Regions from separate parts of the Homo sapiens genome. Here region 1 is linked to region 2. The links come from fine-mapping of genetic effects on gene expression. A gene starts in region 2. The other region holds a variant in brackets. All regions are shown on one strand. Distances are between the middles of the regions. Region 1 has its middle 35 kb from the start of TPBG. Region 2 holds the start of TPBG (trophoblast glycoprotein).

Region 1 (15,493 bases), 35 kb after region 2:
CTATAAATTACTTTGGGCAGTATGGCCATTTTCACGATATTGATTCTTCCTACCCATGAGCATGGAATGTTCTTCCATTTGTTTGTATCCTCTTTTATTTCCTTGAGCAGTGGTTTGTAGTTCTCCTTGAAGAGGTCCTTCACATCCCTTGTAAGTTGGATTCCTAGGTATTTTCTTCTCTTTGAAGCAATTATGAATGGGAGTTCACTCATGATTTGGCTCTCTGTTTGTTATTGGTGTATAAGAATGCTTGTGATTTTTGTACGTTGATTTTGTATCCTGAGACTTTGCTGAAGTTGCTTATCAGCTTAAGGAGGTTTTGGGCTGAGACAATGGGGTTTTCTAGATATACAATCATGTTGTCTGCAAACAGGGACAATTTGACTTCCTCTTTTCCTAATTGAATACCCTTTATTTCCTTGTCCTGCCTAATTGCCCTGGCCAGAACTTCCAACACTATGTTGAATAGGAGTGGTGAGAGAGGGCATCCCTGTCTTGTGCCAGTTTTCAAAGGGAATGCTTCCAGTTTTTGCCCATTCAGTATGATATTGGCTGTGGGTTTGTCATAGATAGCCCTTATTATTTTGAAATACGTCCCATCAATACCTAATTTATTGAGAGTTTTTAGCATGAAGCGTTGTTGAATTTTGTCAAAGGCTTTTTCTGCATCTATTGAGATAATCATGTGGTTTTTGTCCTTGGCTCTGTTTATATGCTGGATTACATTTGTTGATTTGTGTATATTGAACCAGCCTTGCATCCCAGGGATGAAGCCCACTTGATCATGGTGGATAAGCTTTTTGATGTGCTGCTGGATTCAGTTTGCCAGTATTTTATTGAGGATTTTTGCATCAATGTTCATCAAGGATATTGGTCTAAAATTCTCTTTTTTGGTTGTGTCTCTGCCCGGCTTTGGTATCAGAATGATGCTGGCCTCATAAAATGAGTTAGGGAGGATTCCCTCTTTTTCTATTGATTGGAATAGTTTCAGAAGGAATGGTACCAGTTCCTCCTCATACCTCTGATAGAATTCGGCTGTGAATCCATCTGGTCCTGGACTCTTTTTGGTTGGTAAGCTATTGATTATTGCCACAATTTCAGATCCTGTTATTGGTCTATTCAGAGATTCAACTTCTTCCCGGTTTAGTCTTGGGAGAGTGTATGTGTCGAGAAATTTATCCATTTCTTCTAGATTTTCTAGTTTATTTGCATAGAGGTGTTTGTAGTATTCTCTGATGGTAGTTTGTATTTCTGTGGGATCGGTGGTGATATCCCCTTTATCATTTTTTATTGTGTCTATTTGATTCTTCTCTCTTTTTTTCTTTATTAGTCTTGCTAGTGGTCTATCAATTTTGTTGATCCTTTCAAAAAACCAGCTCCTGGATTCATTAATTTTTTGAAGGGTTTTTTGTGTCTCTAATTCCTTCAGTTCTGCTCTGATTTTAGTTATTTCTTGCCTTCTGCTAGCTTTTGAATGTGTTTGCTCTTGCTTTTCTAGTTCTTTTAATTGTGATGTTAGGGTGTCAATTTTGGATCTTTCCTGCTTTCTCTTGTGGGCATTTAGTGCTATAAATTTCCCTCTACACACTGCTTTGAATGCATCCCAGAGATTCTGGTATGTTGTGTCTTTGTTCTCGTTGGTTTCAAAGAACATCTTTATTTCTGCCTTCATTTCGTTATGTATCCAGTAGTCATTCAGGAGCAGGTTGTTCAGTTTCCATGTAGTTGAGTGGTTTTGAGTGAGATTCTTAATCCTGAGTTCTAGTTTGATTGCACTGTGGTCTGAGAGATAGTTTGTTATAATTTCTGTTCTTTTACATTTGCTGAGGAGAGCTTTACTTCCCAGTATGTGGTCAATTTTGGAATAGGTGTGGTGTGGTGCTGAAAAAAATGTATATTCTGTTGATTTGGGGTGGAGAATTCTGTAGATGTCTATTAGGTCCGCTTGGTGCAGAGCTGAGTTCAATTCCTGGGTATCCTTGTTAACTTTCTGTCTCGTTGATCTGTCTAATGTTGACAGTGGGGTGTTAAAGTCTCCCATTATTTATGTGTGGGAGTCTAAGTCTCTTTGTAGGTCACTCAGGACTTGCTTTATGAATCTGGGTGCTCCTGTATTGGGTGCATATATATTTAGGATAGTTAGCTCTTCTTGTTGAATTGATCCCTTTACCATTATGTAATAGCCTTCTTTGTCTCTTTTGATCTTTGTTGGTTTAAAGTCTGTTTTATCAGAGACTAGGATTGCAACCCCTGCCTTTTTTTGTTTTCCATTTGCTTGGTAGATCTTCCTCCATCCTTTTATTTTGACCCTATGTGTGTCTCTGCACGTGAGATGGTTTTCCTGAATACAGCACACTGATGGGTCTTGACTCTTTATCCAGTTTGCCAGTCTGTGTCTTTTAATTGGAGCATTTAGTCCATTTACATTTAAAGTTAATACTGTTATGTCTGAATTTGCTCCTGTCATTATGATGTTAGCTGGTTATTTTGCTCATTAGTTGATGCAGTTTCTTCCTAGTCTTGATGGTCTTTACATTTTGGCATGATTTTGCAGCAGCTGGTACCGGTTGTTCCTTTCCATGTTTAGCGCTTCCTTCAGGAGCTCTTTTAGGGCAGGCTTGCTGGTGACAAAATCTCTCAGCATTTGCTTGTCTGTAAAGTATTTTATTTCTCCTTCGCTTATGAAGCTTAGTTTGGCTGGATATGAAATTGTGGGTTGAAAATTCTTTTCTTTAAGAATGTTGAATATTGGCCCCCACTCTCTTTTGGCTTGTAGGGTTTCTGCCGAGAGATCCGCTGTTAGTCTGATGGGCTTCCCTTTGAGGGTAACCCAACCTTTCTCTCTGGCTGCCCTTAACATTTTTTCCTTCATTTCAACTTTGGTGAATATGACAATTATGTGTCTTGGAGTTGCTCTTCTCAAGGAGTATCTTTGTGGCGTTCTCTGTATTTCCTGAATCTGAATGTTGGCCTGCCTTGCTAGATTGGGGAAGTTCTCCTGGATAATATCCTGCAGAGTGTTTTCCAACTTGGTTCCATTCTCCCCATCACTTTCAGGTACACCAATCAGACGTAGATTTGGTCTTTTCACATAGTCCCATATTTCTTGGAGGCTTTGCTCATTTCTTTTTATTCTTTTTTCTCTAAACTTCCCTTCTCGCTTCATTTCATTCATTTCATCTTCCATCGCTGATATCCTTTCTTCCAGTTGATCGCATCGGCTCCTGAGGCTTCTGCATTCTTCACGTAGTTCTCGAGCCTTGGTTTTCAGCTCCATCAGCTCCTTTAAGCACTTCTCTGTATTGGTTATTCTAGTTATACATTCTTCTAAATTTTTTTCAAAGTTTTCAACTTCTTTGCCTTTGGTTTGAATGTCCTCCCGTAGCTCAGAGTAATTTGATCGTCTGAAGCCTTCTTCTCTCAGCTCGTCAAAGTCATTCTCCATCCAGCTTTTTTCCGTTGCTGGTGAGGAACTGCGTTCCTTTGGAGGAGGAGAGGCGCTCTGCGTTTTAGAGTTTCCAGTTTTTCTGTTCTGTTTTTTCCCCATCTTTGTGGTTTTATCTACTTTTGGTCTTTGATGATGGTGATGTACAGATGGGTTTTTGGTGTGGATGTCCTTTCTGTTTGTTAGTTTTCCTTCTAACAGACAGGACCCTCAGCTGCAGGTCTGTTGGAATACCCTGCCGTGTGAGGTGTCATTGTGCCCCTGCTGGGGGGTGCCTCCCAGTTAGGCTGCTCGGGGATCAGGGGTCAGGGACCCACTTGAGGAGGCAGTCTGCCCATTCTCAGATCTCGAGCTGCATGCTGGGAGAACCACTGCTCTCTTCAAAGCTGTCAGACAGGGACATTTAAGTCTGCAGAGGTTACTGCTGTCTTTTTGTTGTCTGTGCCCTGCCCCCAGAGGTGGAGCCTACAGAGGCAGGCAGGCCTCCTTGAGCTGTGGTGGGCTCCACCCAGTTCGAGCTTCCCGGCTGCTATGTTTACCTAAGCAAGCCTGGGCAATGGCGGGCGCCCCTCCCCCAGCCTTGCTGCCACCTTGCAGTTTGATCTCAGACTGCTGTGCTAGCAATCAGCGAGACTCCGAGCCAGGTGTGGGATATAATCTCGTGGTGCGCCGTTTTTTAAGCCGGTCGGAAAAGCGCAATATTCGGGTGGGAGTGACCCGATTTTCCAGGTGCGTCCGTCACCCCTTTCTTTGACTCGGAAAGGGAACTCCCTGATGCCTTGCACTTCCCAAGTGAGGCAATGCCTCACCCTGCTTCGGCTCGCGCACGGTGCGCGCACCCACTGACCTGCGCCCACTGTCTGGCACTCCCTAGTGAGATGAACCTGGTACCTCAGATGGAAATGCAGAAATCACCCATCTTCTGCGTCGCTCACGCTGGGAGCTGTAGACCGGAGCTGTTCCTATTCGGCCATCTTGGCTCCTCCCCCGCAATTTTCCCATTTATAAAGTAGATCTTATAGTAGTATTTACCTCAGACTGTAATGACAGTTGAGTGAAATAGTGCATATAAAGTGCTTGGCATTAGAATGTGGTCAGTAAATATCTGTGTATCAGTTTCGTCCCCTGCCCACCTGATAAGCTCAATGATGACTTAAATTATATACTTACACCTCATCTATTTGGAAAATTATGTTGTTTTTAAAATTGTAATAATTAAAAATTTACAAGAGTATTAATATTTTTATGTAATACCTTTATTACATAAAAATATTTTATTTGTGCTCAGTTTAGCCCAACCCTATAGAATGTGATGAAGAGGTGGAACTACATTATGATCCTTATTTTTCAGTTGGGAAACCAAAGCAATGAAAAATTAATGAAATTGGCCAGAGTTGCACAAGACATAGCCTAATAGGAGTTAAGTATTTAAGTTAAGATTCCACAGATCTAGAACTTCATTTGAATGGGAGAAAAATTATATCATGAAGTGGTTGATACAGTTGATTCTATAAACAGGGCATTAAACACGTTGATTTGGAAAGCACTGAGTTTTCCTTCGCAGTTGTTTTTTATACTAATAATAGTAGAAAATTTTCCATATACCTTAAGTGCTTTCAAATTTATTTCTAGAATACTGACAGAAAAAAAAAAACACCTTACTTTTAAGTGATGGAGAGGTCTTTCAAAATATCATGCCACAGGGAAATAATATTTTTTCTTGGCACTTAATTCCAAGTAAATGCTTAGCTTAGCTTATGATACACATGTGGTGTTTCTCGAGGACTTTAACACTGTCGTTGTTGTCATGCATTTTCTCACACAGACATTGCACTCTATATTTTGTATAAAATTCTATTCTTAGCCATATATAAATTGCTACTTTGCTATTCACAATTTTGTTATATACAATTACTCAATTTTGGTTTCACCAAAATACATATTATTTGCCATTTTGTTGAAATATGCCCTGCAAGACAAAATATGCTTGCAGTTAGTAAGTATCTGACAGATTAAAACAATTTAAAAAAATCAATATGGTGGCCTAATTCCCTGGTCTGTTATTTAAATATCTTTTCACCTGATTAACCATTCTACATCTGCAGACCTATGGGAAGAATTCCTAATTTTATTCCATCTTCATTTACAGTAGGGACATAAATGTCTGTTGATCTTATCAAATTATTTTTAAGAATTTAGGGATTTTGTCAGAATCATTAATTCAGCCAACCTGGTTAGTCCATTTATACCATAGCCTCAGGTTTCCTATATCCACATATGCCATTCAGAATTACTAAGGCATGGAAAGCGTCTCACAAAAGAAAAACTTTTACATTATTTAAACAGTGTCGTATCCACAAAATAAACGATATGCTGTTCTTGGTTCACCAAGCAAGCACTTTGCCATCTCTGGGTCCCCAGTGAACAGCTACTCATTAAACCCAGATACATTTGGACATCAGACCCCCTCTCTAACAAGGAAAGGGGTCACCACAGGGAGGAATGCAGGCCTGCCAGTCAGAGTCATCTCCCACCAGAAACCTGCTTTAATGAGCATTTTCTTGCTTCTCAGGGCAATCCTCATGCTCTCACTGTGCTCTCAGCAAGAACACCTGGGATTCTTCAGCCTTGCCATGTGTGGAGAACAGCCCAAAAATAGGCCTGCTAAGACTTCCAAGATGGATTGCTAGACTTTGTGAGTCACCTCTGAAACCAAAAGCTCTGTGCTTTGTGATTTTTGTTTGCATCATTAGGATGAGGAATTTCAGCAAACCTAACCACAATTACCTGTGACTAATCTTAGCAGATATAAAAGCAAGTGTTTCCTCTTTCAAACCCACATAAATATACAAAAGGCAAATAAAACCTTGAATTGGATAACCCATTCCCAGCTATTCTTCAATAAAATATTCATAAAACAAAAACTTTGCAGTATAAATATGGTATTCTACTAAAAATGCAAAATATATTTCCCAACTTGGTGCAGCTTTGTAAATATACATTAACATTCAGTGAGAGTAAAGAATAATTACATTTCATGCATTAAACAGATTTCACTTTGTGTCTTCATAACAGAGAGATAGGTCATCTCCGGAAGGATTCATGGGTAGGCTGGGATTCTCATGAGACTAAAGCATAAACCAAACTGGACTTTGCAGAATACATAGAATGAGATTTATCATGCAAGAGCTATGCTTTGCCAGAGTGAACTCCTGTGCCCATATTCTGTGTCCTGTCCCATGTTTTATGATTAAAGAGACATATCAATGTTAGAAGGCTGTGTGTTGCTTGTATGCACTCATAACAAGGTAAGAGCCAGAACCTGGAAATAATCTGGAAACAGAAAAAGGATGATCTAATACAATGTCCTGATAAATATGGATTCATTGATTGAGTTAGAAAGGAAGAGCACAGAAAGGAAAGACCTGGAAATGGTGGCATTGGTACCATAGAGTATCTATTCCAGAGTCAAAGGAAACAAAAAAAAGAAAACATGCCTGAATAAGCTATCACCTCTCAGTTACTTATGGCATAGGGAGAAAGGGAGAATATGGTTAAAGAAAATGCAGATAAAAATTGAAACGCTAATTTCACCTGGTAGTTTCAATTTGCCTTAACCATCTAAGTACATTTTTCAAAGCTTAAAGTGATTTTGTCAGGTTCATGGAATTGCAATCTTTAATGACTCACATTCATGTCTAGATGATAAATGATGACCTACATTTCCAACACCCCATTAGCCAATGTTCTTAAATCACTTGAGCAATATTAGCCCTCACAAACTTTAAGAATACCAAGTATTATTACCCTCCTTAGTTTGTAGAGGAGAGAAAAATGGAGATTTATATAAATAAGGGAAATCAGTTGTCCAAGAATAACTGTGTATATTAGGGCTAACTTAAAATATATATCCCCTGATTCTGCTCAGTTATGTGATCTTATACCCATTTTACTTTCTACCCCAAAGTTACTGGTTCCTGAACTAGGAAGTGCTGTAATTTTAGAAGCTTCTAAAGGAATGCAAATTCTTTTTGGCCAAATGTGACTCACAATACAAACACAGGAACAATTGTTTACTTCTGTAAATTCTAAGATGGTGCAGGTTTGGTCAGAAATGTAATTACCTTAGGGCCAGACTAGAATAACAGTTAAATAAAAACTGGAAGAGAAGATGTTTTTATAGAAATTAAGTTATGGGAGAGTAAGATACATATCCAGAAAGCAGGTTTCTGCCTTTCAGAGGAGAATATTTTCTTAAAGTTTGTGAAAGGGTGCAAGGGGCAAGGGTTGGATTGGTTCTCAGACCACTGAGGGGATTGGCAGGAGACTAAAGTATGGAACCACTGGGGTGCTGGAACTCACCCACATGGGCTTGGGAGAGCCAATTATTATACTGGGATTACAGGTGTGAGCTAGACTGCCTGACCTAAAATTTTGTTTTTTACAAAGTAATAAATACTCAAAATTTATCACTCCCTAATTATTTAACTACATTTTTACTATTATCTGTGCCATTGAGGTTATTTATGTCTATTTGTATTAATGGTAGGAATGCTAAAAATGGCATGCAACTATGCATTTCTTTCTAACTCTACTTTCGGTAACTTCGTGTTGAAACTTAAATTTGATAATGGTGGGAGTATTTAC[A/G]TGAGGGAAATTGGCAAGCAGCACAGCTTGATTTATTGTTTTGTTGATTATCTAAATCAGGATTCAGTAAAAGAGGGCATGCTTGCTATGTGTTGTTATAAATAAAGTTTCCCTGGAACACAGCCATGTCCATTTACTTATGTACTGTTTGTGACTAGTTTTATGCTACCATGGCAGAGTAGTTTTAACAGAGATGTTAGACCCACAAAGCCTAAAATATTCACTGTTTGGCCCATTATAGAAAATGTTTCTATACCCTTCATCTAGACTTTAAAAAGTGATGAGTAAATGTTAAAAATGCAAATTAAACTTAAAAGCATGTTTTTTTAGTAGCTATTACATTGTGATTAGCACACAAAACTGAGGAAATACTTTTTTCAATATTGGAAAACTGTTATCTGATTCAGTAATCACAGTATTGACTATTATGTTTGAACTTAAGTGTGCTGAACCAAAAAAAGGTTTTAATTTAATGAATATAATCTGTATGATGGTGGAAGATAGCTTAATAGTAGATCACATGTCAGACTTAATGACAAAAATAAAAAAATTAGCCAGGCCTGGTGGTGCGTGCCTGTAGTCCCAGCTATTCGTGGGAGGGGGGAAGTTGGGGGGTGAGAGAGGAGGATTGCTTGATTCCAGGAGGTGGAGGCTGCAGTGAGCCATGACTGTGCCACTGCACTCCAGCCTGGGTGACAGAGTGAGACCCTATCTCAAAAAAAAAAAAAACAAAAAAAAAAAACAGGCAGAAAATAGGTGTTGCCAAGGATGTGAGGACATGGAAAAGTTGGAACCCTTGTGCCCTGCTGGTGGGAATGGGAAATGGTGTAGCTACTATGGAAACAGTATGGTGATTCCTCAGAAAATTAAAAATACAACTACTGTATGATCCAGCAATCCCTCTTTTGGGTATATATCCAAAGAATTGAAAACAGAGTCTTGGAGAGATATTTGTGTACCCATGTTCATACCAGCATTATTCATGATAGCCAAGAGGTAGAAGCAAACCAAGTATCTTTTGACAGATGAATGGATAAACAAATGCGGTATATGTATATACCATGGAATATTATCCAGCCTTAAAAAGGAAGGAAGTCTTGTGATGTGCTACAACCTGGATGATCTTGAGGACATTATGCTAAAAATGTCGCAAAAAGACAAATACTCTTTTTCACTTATATGAAGTATCTAGAGTAGTCAGATTCATAGAAACAGAAAGTAAAGTGATGATTGCCAGGGGCTGAGGGGAGAAGAGAGTAAATTGTCATTTAATGGGTATAGAGTTTAGTTTTGTAAGATGAAAAATTCTAGAGATTGGGTGCACAGCAGTGTGAATACACTTAATACTACTACTGAACTATACATTTAAGAGTTGTTAAGATGGCAGATTTTATATTATGCCTTTTTTTTTTTTTTTTGAGTCAAGAGTGTCACTCTGTCACCCAGGCTGGAGTGCAGTGGTGTGATCTCGGCTCACTGCAACCTCTGCCGCCTGGGTTCAAACGATTCTCCTGCCTCAGCCTTCTGAGCAACTGGGATTACAGGTGCCTGCCACTGCGCCCAGCTAATTTTTGTATTTTTAGTAGAGATGGGGGTTTCACCATGTTGGCCAGGCTGGTCTTGAACTCCTGACCTCGTGATCCACCCATGTCAGCCTCCCAAAATGTTGGGATTACAGGCATGAGCCACCGCACCCAGCCTGTTATGCCTATTTTACCACAATTTTTAAAAAAGAGTTAGTGGATTGAGATACAACTCTGTTTGTCAAATTATAGTTAATTGCAATCATAGGTTGGCTATGGATATAGGAATTGAGCAAAAATCAACTAAAGCATTCTGTGAGAATCAGTTGGAATTTATAATAAAGTATATTGTATATTTTATTATCATTAGTAAACTGTGTGCTATATGTCCTTTATATTAGTAAAGTTTAGAATAAACTTACATACATATGTAACATATATAATATCGTATATTCTATATATAATATATATACACACACATACACACATATTCCCAACACAGAGCTGGTTGTTAATATTTACCAGCACACCACTGTCAAGATTGGGCTTTCTCTTATCCAGGAACTGAGATCCGCTCTGGTGGAAGGATCCCAGGTGGCCTGGGTTCGGGTTCCCAGGTTCTATGTCTGACTCCTCCACTTAACTATCTGTACGACTCTGGGCAACTTGCTTAGTTAGACTCTCAAGTGTTAGTTTCCTCTTCTGTTAAATGAGAGCTAGATTGAGTAATCTGTAAGATTTTCTGCTATTAAAAGCTATCACCAGCCAGGCGCATTGGCTCACTCCTGTAATCCCAGCACTTTGGGAGGACGAGGCAGGCAGATCACAAGGTCAGGAGTTTGAGACCAGCTTGAACAACATGGTGAAACCCCATATCTACTAAAAATACAAAAATTAGCTGGGTGTGTGCCTGTAATCCCAGCTACCCAGGAGGCTGAGGCAGGAGGATTGCTTGAACCTGGGAGGTGGAGGTTGCAGTGAGCTGAGATTGCACTACTGCACTCCAGCCTGGGTGACAGAGATAGACTCCGTCTCCAAAAAAAAAAAAAAAAAAAAAAAAAAAAAAAAAAAAAAAATGACTATAGCATTGTAAATTCCGTGAAATGAGGGGCTGTTTTTTATCTTTGCATTTACATAAGCACGTAACATAGTTCTTTGCACACTCAATTAATGTCTGTCAAATTAAGTTGAATAGCGTTTTTCTCAAAATGTTGTGGATTCTTAAATATAATAATAGCTAATATTTCCTGCCTTACTATGCACCAGCTGCTTTATCTCATGTAATTCTTTTAATTCTATGTGGTAGCTACAGTTACCGATTCCGCTTATACAAAGTAATTGAGATTTCCTGAGATGTCACATCTAATAAATGGCAAACTGAGATTCCAACTTGGATCTATCTCACTTCACAGAAACCCTCTTAACTACTATGCTACACTACTTTTTATCCAGAACTAAGATCTTCCCTGAAATGCTAATCATGGAGAATCCTTCTGCATGCCAGAAAGTGAAATGACAAATAAATCTTTACATTTATTCATTGCAACCCTGGAGGTGCTATCATCTGTGTCTCAAATTTAGTTTGCAGCAGGATCATCTGCAGTTCTGAAATGCATATTCCTGAGCCCCGCCCCCCGACCTATTCAATCAGAATCTCTAGGGGTGGTGCCACAAAGCCACATTTTTATTTTTTATTTTATTTTTATTTTTATTTTTTGAGTCGGAATCTCACTCTGTGGCCCAGGCTGGAGTGCAGTGGCGTGATCTCGGCTCATTGCAACCTCCATCTCCTGGGTTCAAGCAATTCTCCTGCCTCAGCCTCCCAGGTAGCTGGGATTACAGGTGTGCACCACCACACCAGGCTAATTTTTTTGTATTTTTAGCAGAGATGGGGTTTCACCATGTTGGCCAGGCTGGCCAACAACTGACTCCTGAGGTGCCCTCGGCCTCCCAAAGTGCTGGGATTACAGGTGTGAGCCACCATACCCAGCCAAGAAGCTACATTTTTATCTGAACTATCATTTTGATATGGGGAACCCTGGACCACATTTAAGAGAAGCACCAGCCAAGAGCAGGGACTTTCAAACACTTTTAACCACAACCTAGAGTTAAGAAAACATTTTATATTGTGACCCACCATTCATATACATGTGCCCACAAAAATGTGAACATTCTGATATTTTCCAACTCTATTCCATTCCATTGTACTTTTTAAAACTAATGGTCAAGTTTCATAAATTGATTTTATTTCCCATTAGTGGGTCACAATTTGCAGTTTATAAAATACTGACTTAGAAAGGTTATATTTGTACCATGTGCCTTCTTTTTTCCTGATTTAAGAGTTTGCACATTAGCGAGACAGAAAGTCCAGCTGTCATTCCTGTATACCTCAGTTAGCTCACCTGATTATTCCAGGCAGGGCTGGATTTACTCCTTATCCTCTGTTCCCAGAAAGAAAAGGATGAAGTTTTTTCCCTTGAAAGGGTTTTTGAAAGTGTCATTTAACTAGCGATTTCCGTTAGTCCCACCACTCCACCAATACGAGTTATGGCAGCTCTGTGTCCCATTAGTGAGCTCTTTCCCCTTCAGCTCTGTGGGACAGGCTGCAGGGCCCAGATCTCTCTGAGCATCTCCTACCTGGCACAGCACAGGATTTATTTAGCATTTGGCCTAGGGTTTGTCCCACTGTTTCAGAGTTTGCTACCATTACTGTAGTAGGTATGAATAATTTTTCAAGTGTAAGCTTGTGACTTCTTTTTTTGCTCCTGAAATTATTGATCAAGGGGATTTCTGAATGATTTTGTGTTGGATTTAGCTAAAAAGAGTTTTATTTTCCTCCTGCTGCTGAAATGATCTCACATACCTTCATCTTAGCAAGTCCTTTAGATTTCATTTGGGAATTAAGATATGAAAGCTCTTTCCAGGGTTATTTTTATGGGATGAGTATGTAAGCTGAAAATAGGAAATATAGTTTGGTTAAGGGGAGCTACATTTGGGATGATCAAGCACAAATTCCTAATTTATTTTATGTTAGCAACAGAAGGCTGTCTTTGTTTTTCTTCCTTTCCTCTCCTTTTATTCTTTTTTTTTTTCATTTATTCAGCTACCTATTTGACACATATTTATTGGAGCCTACAGTGTACCAGGCACTGGTGTAAAAATGCAATACCAATATGTCCTGATACTCAGGAGACTACAATCTAATGGTGAGGGAGACTCTAGTTAATCAATGATTATAATATTTTAATGAAAGAGGTATCTGAGTCAGGGCAGTCAGGTAAAGCTGTTCCAAGGGGGTGACACTGAGCTAAATTTCAAAGGGTGAGTACAAGGATGAAGAAGCCAAAGAAGGAGGTAATAGAGACTTTGTCTTAGTTTGGGTTTCCCTGAATTCAGAGCCTGCAATAAGGACTTAGAGGCAGGTAGTTAATTTACAGCATGAGCCCCAGAAACTGGAGTGAGAGAGTGTGAGACAGAGAAAGAAAAACAAAGTCAAAGTAGATTGAGCTCATTGCCAACTATGGACAACTGGGACTTAATTCCACTGGGGACCTCTGGAGGAATGTAGGTACTATAGAATTATCTCTCCTCCCAAGGACAAGTGGTGGGGGTTCTGTCCGTTGTCTCCTATCTTTATTGGGATACAGGATGTGTGTGTGTGAAGGCTGGGGTGGAGGAAACATGAAGAACTGACTGGTTTTTCTCATTCTTTGTGGCTAGTGACAAATGGGGTGCAGTTGAGGGGGTTTTTAAAATCTTGTATTATTTTCTAAATGTTCTTCATTTCATGTGAGTTGAGGCTTACTTAAATTTTCCTCAATCCAGCTCATGATTCCTTGCAATTTGAATAGATTATTTCCATAGTCTGATCTCAGTGTTAAGTGATGTGAATGTTCATTTGTTTCCATGTTCTGTGTTTTAGTGAAAAGTTAATAGTCTCGAGAAGGACTGTTCTCTTGATGGCATTTGGAACCTCTGTATAAGTTTACCATACCATACTTTCTCATATGAAAAGAAGTATAATATCATCTTAAATAGGAACATCCTTGGAAATCAACTTTTGCTTGATGAAAACCTTTCTAGAACTGCTTCTTGGGTTTTGTTATTCCTTATTTTTGTGAGTGCAAGAAAGTAATCAGAAGAATTATATTAATTTATTCATGATCAGTAAGCAATAGAGACCATACCCAGTCTCATAATTATAATGTTAAAAAGGACACTGTGCACTAATACACGAAAAAATGTGGATCGAAAAATAGTTTAATAATTTAAAAGCAAAATATAAAATTTAGGAGTACAATTTATCAATAAAATATTATTTTCTCATATCCTCTGAAATCATATAATCAAGTTAGAATAGATTTCCTCATAATAAAGTAATTTGTAATAGAGACTATTCTCTTGCATAAGTAAAAATTTTAGTATGAGATAAAATCATTGCTAGAAATATTAATCAAATGTTAACCTGCTTTTTATTCTTTATATTTTCCAGATTCTATTTTTGAAATGACTTATAGTACTTCCTCTAAACATTACAATTTATGATTTTTTATTATTTTAAAGTTGGCATCCTGAGATTACTTGTTTTTTAGCAGATTCAACCTTATGTTAACTTCAAGATGAAAAAGGGCTTAGTTGTAAACAGCTACTTCAAAGTAGAGGTTTATGAGATTTAAGAGCTTTCTTAGCACTAATAAGAAAGAATACTGCAAATAATGACACTCCATCACTAGCATGTATTTTATAGTCCATATTTAGTTCTTTTTTCCCTTGGAACTTTGGAGTAAACAACCCATTCTTTGTGGGTAACATGGTCTTAAATAATTAAAAAATATTTTTAGGGTAAAAACCTTTTACTTCATTTGAGAATTTATGTCTTATGGAATTAGGTTTTAAGGCTGTGGGTGCTCAGATACAATTATTTATCAATAAGGCACCTTATAAATGCACATTATGACACCATAAAGAATAGACATGCAAGTATTGTCATGTCTGCTCTAAAAGTAGAGCTAGTGAATTACAGATTATAATTAGAATGAGAGACTAAATGATATTTAGGGCCATGTGCAGGGCTTACTTCTTGAAATACATGGCTGCCAAATGCTTATGGTCACATTTTAAATATTTATTTAAATCCAAGGGGCCAATCACTTTTTATACCCAGTCTTCAGGACCACCTGTCCCAAGCTACAGTTAGCATGCTATTAACTACTGTTGTTTCCATGATCACTAATAGCATCCATTTCTCTTATTGCACAGTATTTCAACATGATTATAGGAACATTCGAATTTTAAACTTGGAAAGAACTTCTAAAATTATATGTATGGAGTGCTTTTCCATTTCAAAATCAGTTAGGTATATGGAACACTCACATAAATGTTTAGTAACTGGTTCTCTAGGGGAAAAAGCCCTGATTTAAAACTTTTGACAGTCTTTGTGGTGTAAATATTCCCACCATTTCAAGCTTCCAACGTTACTTCACGGAATGTGCCATTGTTTTTGTAGTATTTCTACCACACAGATACATGTAAATAAACTTGACAGCCTAAATAATAGAAATATGTAGTAAAATAATTAGGAAGTAATGAATTTTGAATATTTGTAGCCGTTGTTTTTAATATAATTTACTTAATTGTAGGTTTATATAATTTAATTTTTTTGAAAAAGGCTTGCCAAGTTCCTAAAATTTAACAGTTAGCTCCCATGAGCTGGTACAAGACAGCTTCAGTATGCTACTTGGCTGTAGAGATATTATAGCAGATTTACAGATGAGGAAACTGGAGCTCAAAAGGAAGAAAGGAAATTAACATGTATTGACCACTTATTTGAAGCCATGCAGGATATTGGACAATGTCATAACTCATATAAGCCTCAAAA
Region 2 (15,493 bases):
TAAGATAGGTTCTTGAAACAGATAAGTGTCTTATCCTATTCTTTCTCTAGGTATTTTTTCACTTCATCATAATCAAACTTGACTCTTTAATAAAGAATTATTAGAATTTCTCTTGGTCATTACTTAAAATATAGAGGCTGACTAAATACCATGTATCTGAAATATTAAATTCAAAAGAGAAAAAAATTTTAAATAAGTTTTCTGTGATGTTATGCTACTTAGAATTATGTCTGTATTCTTACCTTCACAGTGAATAAATCACCAAGACTTGTAGATTCTCTTAAAAATTTATACAGGTTGTTTTCAAACTTTCAAAAAATCAATGTTTCTTCTTCACAATATTTTATAAAGCCTTTTTTATTTTACAAAATGCATCTTGATAAATAATTTAAAAAGTACATACTATATTAACTAGAATATTAAAGGATAAATAAAAGAAGAATATTAGTTAATATGTAGCACTACATATAAATACTTGGGCATAACTACGATAGAAACTCAATGAAGTGGTGATATTCTTCTGCCTACTTATAAACAAGCTAGGATTTAAGAGAAGTTAGACCAATATTCAAATGAATGTTGAAATAATTTTTAAAAATATTAGACATTTTGAAATAAGAATCACTGCAAATGTAACAACTACAAATGCAAACTGATACTATATTGATGATCTGAGTAGAATGAGTGGCATGGTTATCAGAGATAAAATTTTGGTAAAGTTCCAAACAAAACAATATATATTGTTTCCTTACAGTGTTAACTGTTCCTGGAAAATTCAACGTATAATAAAACCATACTATAAGTATTTGGAGCTTAAATGTAAAATGAAGTTGTTTCTAGGCTGAGAACTTCAGGTTTTTATCTAGTCACACTGGGGATAAATTAAAATTTCTCTTGGTCATTATTTAAAATATAGAAGTTATCTGTAATCTTATATTTAGAATTATAAATGTATGTATTGTTACCTTCAAAGTGAATAAATCACCAAGATTTGTAGATTATCTTAAAAATTTTTATAGGTTGTTTTCAAACTTTCTAAAAGCCAATATTTTCTTTTCAAAAAATATTTTAGTGGCACTGGGTGCAGTGCCACTCTGTTGGGAACCACTGTTCCATGTAATCTTATGGTCTATATAATAACCAGTGGTCTATATAATCTATTGTTGCCTTGCCAATCTTTTCCTTCTACTTTAGTTTGGCTCTTTGTCATCCCTCACTTGAACCACCCAACTTTTCTCTCTGTTTTGTCTTCTTTGTCTATAATTTACCTTTTAAACAGATAGCAAATGTGATCTTTCTAAAATGCACTTGTGATCATGTCATCCCTCTGCTGAAAACTTCCATTGGCCCCCCATCACTCAGGATAATACAAACCTTTTATTTTTATTTATTTATTTTTTTGAGATGGAGTTTCACTCCTGTTGCCAAGGCTGGAGTGCAATGGCATGATCTCAGCTCACTGCAACCTCCACCTTCTGGGTTCAAGTGATTCTCCTGCCTCAGCCTCCCAAGTAGCTGGGATTACAGATGCCTGCCACCAGGCCTGGCTAATTTTTGTATTTTTAGTAGAGATGGGGTTTCACCATGTTGGCCACGCTGGTCTCGAACTCCTGACCTCAGCTGATCCACCTACCTCGGCCTTCCAAAGTACTGGGATTACAGGTGTGAGCCACCATGCCAGGCTGGAATAATACAAACCTTTTAGACTGGAGGTCAGTAATCTGATCCCACTAAATTTCAAATCTCACCTTGTACCACTCCCTCCAATGTATCAATGTGTGCTGTGCTCTGCTTTGTGTAGTCTCTAGAACTGAATAAATTCTCAGGTTTTTCACCAACTTGCCGATCTTTTGTCTGTCAAGTTCTTACTAACATAGTCTTCCTTCAGTATGCATGGGGATTGGTTTCAAGAGCCCTGTGGATACCAAACCCCACAGATGCTAAAGTTTCTGATATAAAATGACATAGTATTTTTTTATAACCTACATGCATCCTCCCACAGACTTTAAATCATCTCTAGATTATCATACCCAATATAATGTAAATGCTATGCAAATAGTTGTTTTACTGTATTTTTCATTTGTATTATTTTTTACTGTTGTAGCATTATTTTTTCCTGTTTCTTTTTTCTGTATATTTTCAATCCCCAGCTGATTGAATACACGGGGCAGAAGCTGAGTATACAGGCCGATTGTGCTTCAAAATGCAACTCAGGCATTTCCACCCTAGTAAAACCTTCTGACAGTCTCCCCACTCCATCCCATGTTTGCACTTACCGTATGTTTTGTAACTATTTGCTTTCCCATTAGACTGTGAGTTATCTGAGGGCAGGGATTTTTATCCTATCTACCCTTGTATTTCAAGTGCATCAAATAGGTGGACAGTATATAGCGGGGTCTTAAAAAAGCATTTATTGAATTAATGTTGAGTGATCCTGCTGTAATGGTGACTATTTGGAGAGTTTGGATATTACTATATACAATCATCCCTTGTTATCCTCAGGGAGTTGCTTCCAGGATCCTTGCGGATACCAAAATCCAGGGATGCTCAAGTTCCTTAAGTTAAATGGCATAGTATTTGCATATAACCTATGGACATCCTCCTATATACTTTAATTCATCTCTAGGTTGCTCATAATACCTAATACAATGTAAATGTTATGTAAATAGTTTTTATGCTGTATTTTTTTGTGGTTTTTTTTATTAACATTTTATGTTTATTTATCTCATTTTTATATAAGGGCTTGTTTGAACTGCAATAACATTGGTTTTGGCTGTAAGAGAAATTACATATCATTAGATAACTTTATTTCATTAGGGGAAGAGGTTTTTCTCCTTAATTTCTCAAGTGAAAGTTCAGTGGAATTCTGACATATGTTTATTCTGCCCTGAAAACCTCAGTGTCTTCCAAAGAAACAACTACTGAATCTGAAATAGTGAATGGGTCCAGGGATAGCCTGCCATATTGGAAATAAAGTAGGAGAACAGAGTTTAAACCACAGGCTGGCCACTTACTAGGTAATCTGGACCAAGTGGTTCTCTAAGTCTCAGTGTTATTATGTGTAAAATAGAGGTAATGGAGAGTTGAGAAGGAAAATGAAATCATGCATATGAAAATATGTAAATGGTTAAAGCACTATACAAATAGAAACTCTTAATAACCATTATTAATGGTGGAGGAAGGCTGGACCACCACATTCTGGACCATCAACCCTGCCCCTCAGAAAGGAGTGTTAATTCACCAAAAGGTTTGTTTTGTTTTTGAGGTGGAGTCTTGCTCTGTCATCCAGTCTGGAGTGTAGTGGCATGATCTCAGCTCACTGCAATCTCTGCCTCCCAGGTTCAAGTGATTCTCTTGCCTCAGCCTCCCCAGTAGCTGGGATTACAGGTGTGCACCACCACACTTGGCTAACTTTTGTATTTTTAGTAGAGACAGGGTTTCACCATGTTGGCTAGGCTGGTCTCAAACTCCTGATCTCAAGTGATTTGCCCACCTCGGCCTCCCACAGTGCTGGGATTACAGGCATGAGCCACCGCGCCCTGCTGTATTGCTTAGGAAATAATGATAATTTTTTAAAAAGTCTGTACATGTTTGGTTCAGATGTAACCACCCATTTATTTTCTTTTGATTATTTTCTATCTGTGGTTTGGTTGAATCCAGGGATATAGAACCCACAGATATAGAGGGCTATATTTTTCTTTTACTAGCCGCAGCACTTATTGTACTGACTGATGAGACAAATACATTCCTTTTGACCCATTCCTTAATTTACATTTTACTTTAGTTTACACATCTCAGAAGTTTACACACTTCAAGTACTTAAAGTGACTTGAAGTTTTCTTTTTAATCACTGACAATTTTAAAAAATTATTTCTTCATGAATATACACATATACATGTACAATTTCTGGTGGGTTTTTTTTTTTTTTTTTTGTCAAATTGACCCTCAAGTTGATGGTTTTAGTTTTAAGTGTTGGTTCATGGTTTTTTGACATATGTGCTTGTTGTTCACCAACACTTGACTTTGTTTTAGTTACTTTTCAGATCTGACAGTTTTCACGTGTATTCAATTCCTTTGCTAATTTGAGACAGAGATCAAAATGAACTAGTCTTAAATAATCTTGGTGTTTGTCCATGCTGGACCACGCGGCTTCTCTCTGCTAGTTACCATAAGGGTGGTCATAACCACTCATCATTCTTTTTATACCTATTTATTCCTTGCCTAATCAGGATTTAGAAGCAATATTTCAATAATTTACTACTGACTTTCCTTTGGGTCATTAGAAGAAAAATGGTCCCTGTAGAAACAATCTTGTAAATAAATGATAGTGTAGAAACGTTTCCTGCAGGCTACAAAGTGACCTCTTGAAATACACTAAATTGGTTCTTATCTGTCGGGACATTCAGATCCTTCCTTTATTTCACTTTGGAATAGAAGAATAAATTGGGAAAAATGTGCTCTGCAATCCTCTGCCCTGCCTTAGAGTATGTAAATAGCATCATGCACAAAAAATTTTCAAGCTGTCAGGAGTAAAGTAAGTATGATAATTTGGGATAATTAAATGCTTAAGACAATCAAAATAGAACTGATCCTAGTAAGCTTTTCTCACTTGGAGGAAACTTCTTTAAAAAGTATTTACTGATCTAAATGTCTTTCAATAAGGCTGTTAAATAAATTGTGGTACAACAATCTACAGTTTGAAATATTTCAGTCTTTAAAAAAGGAGAAGCATACCTATATGTATGCACACAGAAAAATAGATGGTTGTTTTTAAAAAAGAAAAAATGCGAATAATTCATATACTATGATCCCATTCACATAAAAAATAGCAGAAACAATTGAAATATTTATAAAGAGAGAGGGCATTGACTGGAAAGATACACACACCAAACCGTACTCAATTCTGCATTGAGAGCTTTTGCTTCCGTGTCTATGTCTTTCGTTTACCAGATTATCAACTGCTGTATTGCCAGATCAAATACAGGATACTCAATTAAAGTTGAATTTCAACTATAAGCAACAAAATTTTGGGTGCATTTCCCAAATATTGCATGGGACACACTTAAAAGGTATTCATTGTTTTGTTCATTAAAAGGTATTCATTGTTTTGCCAGATTTGTTAAATCTGGCAACTCTACCTTAAAGAGACTTTAAATTATTTATCCTTGTATTCCTATTACTAACATAGTTACAGAGATATAGTGGATTACAATAAATAACATGAGGGGGGTAATTTAGGAGAGAACTATCAAAACAGATGATTTTGCTAAGTATGTGACATATTTATCTCAATTTTCATGGAAATATCTTCAAATTTCATTAGTGGTCCTATTATAGAAGACACACAGCAGGCAAGTGTCAGAGCTAGAAATGACCCTAAATTTCTGGGTCCCTATTCAGCAGCCATAAGCAATTGCCAGCTGCAGGAAGGTGGAGGCAGAAGAAGTAAAAAGGGAACAAGAGGTGAGGTTTACGTTCTGCCTAAGTGGAACAGAGTAGAACTTTGCACAAACTCCTTAATCTTGCCTAGAGGCAGAATGTGGGATGTACTATATGGGAGGCAGGCAAATCTGGGCCTGGTTCCCACCTCCATCACTCATTTGAACAAGTTATGTAATTTATTTTTGCGTCAATTTTCTTGTCTGTAAAACTGGAGTGAGAGGACCTAACTTGAGTACCGAAGTGAAGAGTCAATGAGATAATATCTGTGATCAGCACAGTGCTTGGCAAGTGGAAGACACTCAGTCAAGCTAACTTAAAGCCCCAGTTTTTTCATTTGTACAACAGAACAACAACAATAATAGCAACAAGCAATAATACTAACAATATTTATCTTGCCTCTGAGTTGTCTTGAAAATCAGATGAGTATATATATTATGTTTCTAAATTCTAAAGTGTATCTCACTCTCCTAACAAAGCAGTTGGTCTTCAGATCAGGACCAGAGTTAATACCATGCCAGAGCATTATTACAGGTTTTTTCCAATGAGTAATTAATTTTATTTTTAAACTTATCATACAGTAAAATTGACTCTTTTGGTTTACAAAGTTCTATGAGTTATAACACGTTGTATAGGTTTATGTAACCACCACCACAATCCGGATACAGAACATGACTACAGCTTTAGAGATTCTTTTTCAAAGTGTTTTACATTCATGTTGCAAAACACTTTTAAAAATAAGAAAAGAGATGTAGATAAACGTGCTGAAGATGCAAATTAATGAAACCAGCTTTTGTGCACAAATCTCTGCAGTTTCCAGTGTTTTCAGCTTTTGTCTGAGCCATTTTTGCTGTCGGCTTTGCAGACTATCTCTTTCTATAAAAGTAATCAGGCGTCCGTTGGAGAGTTGGGGTCTTTCTTCACACTAAAGGCACATGTCCCAGGCACAAGCCTCAGGATCCTTATTTGATCTTTTTTAATACGACCAGGTCTTAAATTTCCGAACCATGTTTTCCCTAATTGCCATTTTCTCTCTAAAATGAAGAAGCCTGGAAGAACCTTCTTATCCCTTCGGGGAAATTATTTAATTGGGACAAAGGGGATGTGGAGTTACAGAGAGCAACGATAGGGCTTTCAGAACCCAAAACCTGTCTGGTATAATAACAGATCCTTCCGGTAACCAACCATTCAATTTGTCCCTCTCCCCAACCCCATCCTCTCCATCACCATCTGCCAGATGCCCCCTGGGACAATCGACTTTGAAACCAAACTTCTCTCCCAGGTCAGCTCCTGCAATCCCCACTCCTCATCCTTGGAGCTTTCTCCACAGAAGTGACTTGACACACCGCGCTACATCTGGGGAGGGGGGCGGGTCCGCTTTCCGGGAGACTCAAGTCTTTGCTATTTGCCTTTTGTTTCTGGGATGCCTTTGGCTGCCTTTCTCTTCCATCTGCTTTTAATTTTGGTAAGAGAAAAGCTAATGAATCAGGAATGAATCTCCTCTCCACTAATCTTTTTTTTTTCTTTCTCTCTCTCTCTCTCTTAAAGTTGGCGCGCTCTCTTCACAAGTTCCATCACTACCCAAGAAGTGAGGGGGCGGGGGGGACAGGCGGGAAGGCATTAATTACACCTAAATCTGAAGTTTGCGGCCTCAAGTACCACTTTGATGGGGAGAGCTTCTGAAGCTTCCATACAACCTGCCGTGCCTTTGCTGCTGCCGCAGTAGATTTTCAGCTCATTTCTTTCTGCTGCTGCTTCGCGCTGCTCTGTCATGCCTAAATCTATCTCGTCACTGCCAAAGGTGCCTGAATCAGGGTGAATTCCACGAGATTCACCAGCGGTTTTGCTCCAGTCCAAGGTAAATACAGTATGCAAAATGAGGAACCACCCAAGGATGTCGGGGAGGGGGGAGAGAAAGGGATTCCCTCACCTTTTCCGGCACATTCCTCGTTAATTTCCACCAGGAGGAGGCGCGCAGCCCAGCTCCCCTAGTCTCTCTTCTTAAATCCCCCTACCTACGGCTGCCGAGGTTGGCCGCGCGTCGGGAATCTCCCCGACAGTCCTGGCCCTCCCCCGCCCCCCGGGTTGGTTTTTCCCAGCTGCGGAGGTTGGGAGGTTGGGCCAGGGGCTGGGGTGCGAAGAGAGTCGGCGCCCGCAACGCGGAGCCGGGAAGTCGTCGCTACTCTGGTGGAACTCAGAGTTGGTTCTGGAGGCGGCGGACGCGGAGGTGAGCAGTGGGAGCCCGCGGCCTGGGAGAGACCCGGGAGGCGTCGTTGGGGCCCCTCCCCATCCTCGGGTGGAGAGTAGGGTTGGTTCGGGTTGCCACTGTACCCCGAGTCCCACTGCTGCTTTGTTCCCAGACTCTCCCCTCCTCTTTGGAGATGACTTGAACCCCTTTGAGATCCGAGGGGCTGGCGGGGCGCGGGCTGGGGGGCGACAGTTGTAGCTCCACTTCCTGCTAATGCGAGAAGGTACAAAAAGAGATCAAAAAGTCCTGTAACCTGAAACTTCCCTCGCATCCTAACCGGGACCTGGTGGAGAGGTCTGGGCGGGGGCGGAGACACCCGGAGGCCGACCTTCCGCCGAGGCGGTGCAGGAAGGAACGGGAGAGGGAGAAGTTTGGTAGGGAAGGAATTGGGGATTAAGCGGTAAGTTAGACGCGGGAGACGAGTCTCCTCGGGAAAGGCGGAGGGCGGGAGGCCGGTCGGGTTTATTTAGTGTGGGCCAGGGAAGAAGGAAGACTTTGCGGTCTGGGTGTCGGATGCGCGTCCCCCTCCGGAGTAAAAGTGACCGGAGGGGTTGGGGAGGCGAGGCCGGGGCGGGCTTTTGGAAGGAGGTCTCTGGGACAGACTGGAGACGACTAGACTCGAAAAGGCCGGTTTTTGCACTCCGGAAGCCGCGGCAGCCACCGCTGTTCACGCCTCTCTCCTGCTTGTCCCAGGTCCCTCAGAGGATCCAGCGAGGGGCGCCAACAAGAGGCGAAGAGGTGGCACCAGGGCGGCGGCAGGAAGAGGAGCGGGAGCAGGAGCGCGGAGCGGAGCGTCCCGACCCGCCGTGCGTACTTTCTGGAGGGAAGGGGCGGGGGAATCGGCCCCTGAGGGAAGCGCCCGGTGGCGAGGGGGTTAGCCAAGTTCCGGCTGCGGCGCCACTCCCTCGGTTCCACGAGAGGAAAGTTTTTTTTTTCCAGACGCTTCCGCCGGCTCGCGCCCTCCGGGCCCAGCCTCCCGAGCCTTCGGAGCGGGCGCCGTCCCAGCCCAGCTCCGGGGAAACGCGAGCCGCGATGCCTGGGGGGTGCTCCCGGGGCCCCGCCGCCGGGGACGGGCGTCTGCGGCTGGCGCGACTAGCGCTGGTACTCCTGGGCTGGGTCTCCTCGTCTTCTCCCACCTCCTCGGCATCCTCCTTCTCCTCCTCGGCGCCGTTCCTGGCTTCCGCCGTGTCCGCCCAGCCCCCGCTGCCGGACCAGTGCCCCGCGCTGTGCGAGTGCTCCGAGGCAGCGCGCACAGTCAAGTGCGTTAACCGCAATCTGACCGAGGTGCCCACGGACCTGCCCGCCTACGTGCGCAACCTCTTCCTTACCGGCAACCAGCTGGCCGTGCTCCCTGCCGGCGCCTTCGCCCGCCGGCCGCCGCTGGCGGAGCTGGCCGCGCTCAACCTCAGCGGCAGCCGCCTGGACGAGGTGCGCGCGGGCGCCTTCGAGCATCTGCCCAGCCTGCGCCAGCTCGACCTCAGCCACAACCCACTGGCCGACCTCAGTCCCTTCGCTTTCTCGGGCAGCAATGCCAGCGTCTCGGCCCCCAGTCCCCTTGTGGAACTGATCCTGAACCACATCGTGCCCCCTGAAGATGAGCGGCAGAACCGGAGCTTCGAGGGCATGGTGGTGGCGGCCCTGCTGGCGGGCCGTGCACTGCAGGGGCTCCGCCGCTTGGAGCTGGCCAGCAACCACTTCCTTTACCTGCCGCGGGATGTGCTGGCCCAACTGCCCAGCCTCAGGCACCTGGACTTAAGTAATAATTCGCTGGTGAGCCTGACCTACGTGTCCTTCCGCAACCTGACACATCTAGAAAGCCTCCACCTGGAGGACAATGCCCTCAAGGTCCTTCACAATGGCACCCTGGCTGAGTTGCAAGGTCTACCCCACATTAGGGTTTTCCTGGACAACAATCCCTGGGTCTGCGACTGCCACATGGCAGACATGGTGACCTGGCTCAAGGAAACAGAGGTAGTGCAGGGCAAAGACCGGCTCACCTGTGCATATCCGGAAAAAATGAGGAATCGGGTCCTCTTGGAACTCAACAGTGCTGACCTGGACTGTGACCCGATTCTTCCCCCATCCCTGCAAACCTCTTATGTCTTCCTGGGTATTGTTTTAGCCCTGATAGGCGCTATTTTCCTCCTGGTTTTGTATTTGAACCGCAAGGGGATAAAAAAGTGGATGCATAACATCAGAGATGCCTGCAGGGATCACATGGAAGGGTATCATTACAGATATGAAATCAATGCGGACCCCAGATTAACGAACCTCAGTTCTAACTCGGATGTCTGAGAAATATTAGAGGACAGACCAAGGACAACTCTGCATGAGATGTAGACTTAAGCTTTATCCCTACTAGGCTTGCTCCACTTTCATCCTCCACTATAGATACAACGGACTTTGACTAAAAGCAGTGAAGGGGATTTGCTTCCTTGTTATGTAAAGTTTCTCGGTGTGTTCTGTTAATGTAAGACGATGAACAGTTGTGTATAGTGTTTTACCCTCTTCTTTTTCTTGGAACTCCTCAACACGTATGGAGGGATTTTTCAGGTTTCAGCATGAACATGGGCTTCTTGCTGTCTGTCTCTCTCTCAGTACAGTTCAAGGTGTAGCAAGTGTACCCACACAGATAGCATTCAACAAAAGCTGCCTCAACTTTTTCGAGAAAAATACTTTATTCATAAATATCAGTTTTATTCTCATGTACCTAAGTTGTGGAGAAAATAATTGCATCCTATAAACTGCCTGCAGACGTTAGCAGGCTCTTCAAAATAACTCCATGGTGCACAGGAGCACCTGCATCCAAGAGCATGCTTACATTTTACTGTTCTGCATATTACAAAAAATAACTTGCAACTTCATAACTTCTTTGACAAAGTAAATTACTTTTTTGATTGCAGTTTATATGAAAATGTACTGATTTTTTTTTAATAAACTGCATCGAGATCCAACCGACTGAATTGTTAAAAAAAAAAAAAATAAAGATTCTTAAAAGAATTACAGTGTGTGCAAGTTTGCTTTGAAAAAAGGATGAAGGGCAGGAGTATTCAATGGTCTTGGTTCCGATGATAATTATTACTTAACATAGCTGAGAATCAAACTGTAGCAATGTCTAATATAAATAGACTTGGGAGATCGTTTTGAAATGGTGGATCCTTTTAGTATTTAAATGGAGAGTTTGAGTATTCATGTGACTGTATGGTCCCAAAGTTAATGCTATTTATGAAACAGTTTTGTAAGAACATAATGAAGTTGGTAAAAGCTAAGCGTTCTGCACAATAAACAGTTCCCAGTTTGGGGCTTTTTCAAGGCTAATGAAGTTATTGTTGGTCTAGAAAAATAGTATTTACTTAATAAAACTCTGTTTGAAATTGTTCTGTGGATTTTTAGAGCAGAATTTGAAACAAATGTAATGCAAATAAATATAAAGATAAAGTGTCTTAAAGACAATATTCTGAAATAAAAGATATAAAATATAATTTAAAAAATATTTCTCAATGTCTTAATGTAAATTGAAACTTAGATTTTCTTGAGGATATTTTCAAAAAAACATTTAAAGTGGAACATAAATGTTCTTTAGTTTATCAGAGACCCAGCTAATATGTTTAAAAAGTTGACTTGACATGGTTGAATATGAACTTGAGGAAATAACCACAGATAAATGTCTACATCTGTAAACACGTGTCTCAAGTATTTATAGGTTCTTATCTTCAGTTCAGTGTTTAAGAATTTGAGGATATTTTGATTTTAGCTAAGCTGTTCATAATGTAAGTATATACACCTTTGTGAAGAATAAATCACATTTAGGTGTAAATACAGGCAATCATTAATTGATACATCCATAATATACAAGGCTTTTATTATTTTTTCAGTTTATTATCTGTCATTTAATCTGAAAAGTAAATTCCATTAATCAGTCTTCAGGCTCTTTTATCAAGTGATTTAAATGTAGCCATTATTGCTTAACTGAAAGTATTAGGTAAACTTGCATCAGTAAGTCTTAGGGCTTGCTTTTCCTTTGAACTGGTTATGTCCTTCAGTGCTTTATGTTTGAAATAAAATCTACATTTTCATATTTTTATAAATAAAATAGGATCAGATAGTATTTTAGGTTCTAGAAATCTTTGCTGATTCCTTCTTTGAATTAAATTCAGAAATTTTCAAAGTAGGGCTAAAAATAAGTAAATCTTCCTTTTTATAGGTTAGAATATATAGTCAGAATACAAAGCTGTAATTCCTTAAATTCCATCAGGCTTGTTTTGTGAAATATAGTATTTATTATTTAAGGGTTATATTTCAGATCCTATAATTACCTCAGAAAAAGCTAAATATTTGGCACTTAAAATTCCATCAAACAGTTTAAGTGTTCATCAGAAATTCCTAAACTGTCTGGTTGCCATTATTTGGTAAGAACAATGAGATACTAATCTGTCAAAAATAGTGACCACTATCTTAGTAAACTGTTGATGGACTTAGTAAGTCTTCTGATATTGTAGGAAACAAATTATAATATTGATAGAGCCTCTATTGAGAAGAATTGTTTCTTCATCACATGATAATCTAACAGTTTAAAGTGGAGCTTTATCTAAGAACCAGGGAAGCAGTAGATTCATTAGTCTAGCTTTTCTCATCAACTCTTTGAAGCAATGATGAATCTGATAAAGTGAAGCCAAGTTTTCCCTGTTAGGTAGATGGCTTCTTTGAAGTTATAATTTATTGCTTCTTTTTCATCCCCCTACTTATTCTCTTGTTTGGACTTTCCAATTGCTACTGCTTTGTTTTCCATCACATCACTCCTTCCTGTTCTCCAAAATATGGAAATAAAAAAGTCAATTAAAAGAACACCTTATTCTTAAGATAAAAAATTGTTATTATTTGACAACTAATTAATGTTTTGCAGCCCTAATATTCTTAAGTCTATAAGCTTATAAAACATTCTAAGTTCCTTGGAAGATAGAGGCTATATAAATTCAATAAGTATAAGGGAATATGGGAAAAATAAAAGTATCACTTTATTTAAAAATAAGACAAGTCTGTTTGTTTTAAATACTGTTCTTACTATTAATGCATTGTTGACTCTAGAAACCTGCAAGTATCCATTTTTAAAATTTTATTTTAGTTGGTAATACTCTTTATTACTGAACGTAAAATTTTCAACATAAAACACCCTTCATTTATCCTTTACAAGTTTCATTTGAAGAAAGTTAGAAAAAATACTTAGAAATTCAAGGACTTGATATATCCCTTAATTTAGAAAGCTATTCAACTATCCCATAAATTTCTATTTAAAGTAGCAAAAATTTTAGGATAATACAGCTATTTGGCCCTGAATTATAACTGCCCCCTTTGATTGTAACCATTCAGTTTGCAGCATTCGTTTTTGTAATAGCAGTTTGGCTGCTATGGGTGTGATTCAATGGTAACCTACAAGGCAAATTTGTACAGGAGCTGACAGATTTTTCTAACAAAATAAGGAGACTTTGAAGCACATTGAATAGGAGTTTTTAAATGAATAGGATTTTTTAAAGGAAAAAGAGTAGGAGCTTGGGGGGGAAGGCTGGTTGAAATAAATGAGCAAATCACAAATAATAAATCCTTTAGAAATACCTTGATTGGCAGTAAGTGTGGATTATGCTCATCTCAGTATTTAATTAGAAATAACTTACCTTTGTCTTTTGTCTTTTTAATTAAAGTGGCTGTAAAAAAGAAGGTCCAGATGAACTGAGATTGTTTGCTTAGGAATTCTGTTTTACTCTTTTCCTTTTACCTGATGTTCTAAAACAGGGCTTACCTTGTTGAGGACCTTAGAGGCTTTGCAATTCTAGATTGTGATTCTTTCATATCATTTTAGTTTTTCTCCCAAGACTACACTAAAGGAGACATCACGAGATTTGCAAGGTTAAAAACAATTCTGCACGTGCTTCCTCCTGCTCCCAAATCCGGTCATCCACCTTTCAGAGCAGCACCGTAAAGTGAAGACAGACATTTATTAGATGAAATTCTGGTTTCACTTTTACACTTGTGCAAGCATTTTTAACAGTAAAGGAGAGGAAAGGGAGGAATTTATATTTCTAGATAATATATGAAAATTACCTTGATATTGTATTTTTAAGATCTTTCACCAATACTGCAGTGCTGCACTAGAAATAATTAGTTTAAGAAAATACATTCAACATTGTCCAGGTGATCCTGTCACCTTTTAGATGACGAAAAACATCTTGAGGATGTTTTGTACAGTTATTTTCCCATTGTTACTCTTAGAGACTTTTGTTTCAAAAAGGCAGGCTCATTTTATTTTGTTTTATCTTAGAACATTTTAGCAGCTCTTTGTCATGGGTTAAAAAAATCTAGAATTAAAAAAATGTTTAATATATGATTTATATAATTTTGACAAGAATACAAATTCTTAGTCGTTCAAAATTGGAAGCGCTCTTAGAAGTGTCAAGCTCAGCTTTCCATTCCACAAATGAAGTAACTGGTAACTGTGACTTATTATGTTATACAGTGACAGTTATTATGTTATACAGTGTCAGTTATACAGTGACAACCAGGACAAAATCCTAGGGTTCTAGATTCCCCTTCTGGTGCTCTTTTTACCAGATGATGGCATTACTAATTGCCTACCTTGAGGCCTTTGAAATCACCATGTCTGATAAAAACATGCAATTGCTTTGGTGAATTTGTTTGTTTTATTGTTGTTGCTTTGAGTGAATGCTTCAGTTTGCTCTAGATTTTACTTTGTTAAAAATTACCATGTTTTAACCCCCGAAAACATTTAATGTTTTTGAAATGATTTTTTCATAACAATCTTATGAGTCTATTATATAATAGGAAGTATTTTGGAAATTTAATGGTGATATTTCTTTGGAAAAGAAAAATAAAAACTCTGGAATGCAGTGCTGGTTTGTATAATTCAACCTTAAATGTGAGTTAAGCTCAGCTGGTGAGAAAACTAAACAAATGAGACCAAGTTCGTGACCATTAAGTCAATCAGTCACCAGGTGAGACAGTCAGCTTTGCATTCTCTGCTGTGTTCTCCTAGCTCACGCCCACTCCAGGTGCATGCTGCCATCCTCTAAGGGCCTGGACCAAACAGGGAAGTTAGTTAAATCAATGCAAATCCATTATCACCCTGGAAAACCAGGGGACTGACCAGCCGAACACTGCCAGCTTGGCTGCTGAAGTGCCAGTTTACTGTCTTTACATATGCAGGACACACACTACATCTCAATTTTCTCACATCATATGTAGTATTTATGCTGCAGATTGCAAAAGGCTTATAATTTATGTGAATTTTGGGAAGCTAGCATGAGTACCTTTCAGGGTATTGCATGGGAAATTAATTAGGTTTACTTTATTATTTTAAAAAAGTGTGGGTTAAGATTAAGCAACATGATTACTATATCATACACTTACACGTAAATGTTTATAAAAACAAATACAGTTTATATTTAGCTGACATTTTATGATAGGACTTACTTGTGGTTCACAATTTAACTTGGTTAATGTAAGGAAACATTTGGTCTAAGGAAGCAGAAGCTTAAGATAATGACCCTCTATAATACTTTTTGTGAAAAGTAAATATTAAAAATATGTTTTAAAGAACCGGGGATGTTATCGAGATAGGCTTAAAAAAAAAAAAAACGGAAGTTTATACATTTATTTTCCCCTTCCCCTTACAGTTCTTTTTTTTTTTTTTTTTTTTTTTAAGACACAGTCTTGCTCTGTTGCCCAGGCTGGAGTGTGGTGGCATGATCTCAGCTCACTGCAACCTCTGCCTCCTGGGTTCAAGTAATTATCCTG

Evidence for each region. PIP is the estimated chance that this variant, and not a neighbour inherited with it, causes the effect.
Region 1: its variant is fine-mapped to the expression of TPBG in monocytes (TOPMed, PIP above 0.99).

What each region holds. Positions count from the first base shown.
Region 1 is chr6:82,390,992-82,406,484 of GRCh38, forward strand. No RefSeq gene overlaps it. Among named protein-coding and RNA genes, the nearest start is that of TPBG, 35 kb to the left of the region's middle. The variant A/G (reference allele first, on the strand shown) is at 8,093.
Region 2 is chr6:82,356,243-82,371,735 of GRCh38, forward strand. It overlaps TPBG (trophoblast glycoprotein), which reads left to right and starts at 7,575. Exons shown (of 2, transcript NM_001376922.1): 1 at 7,575-7,666; 2 at 8,381-11,178. The coding sequence starts at 8,720. The coding sequence ends at 9,982. It overlaps LOC105377875 (a long non-coding RNA gene), which reads right to left and starts at 7,415. Exons shown (of 3, transcript XR_942738.4): 1 at 7,370-7,415. RefSeq lists enhancers at 7,008-7,521, 7,522-8,033, 8,185-9,087, 9,088-9,989 and a silencer at 9,056-9,135.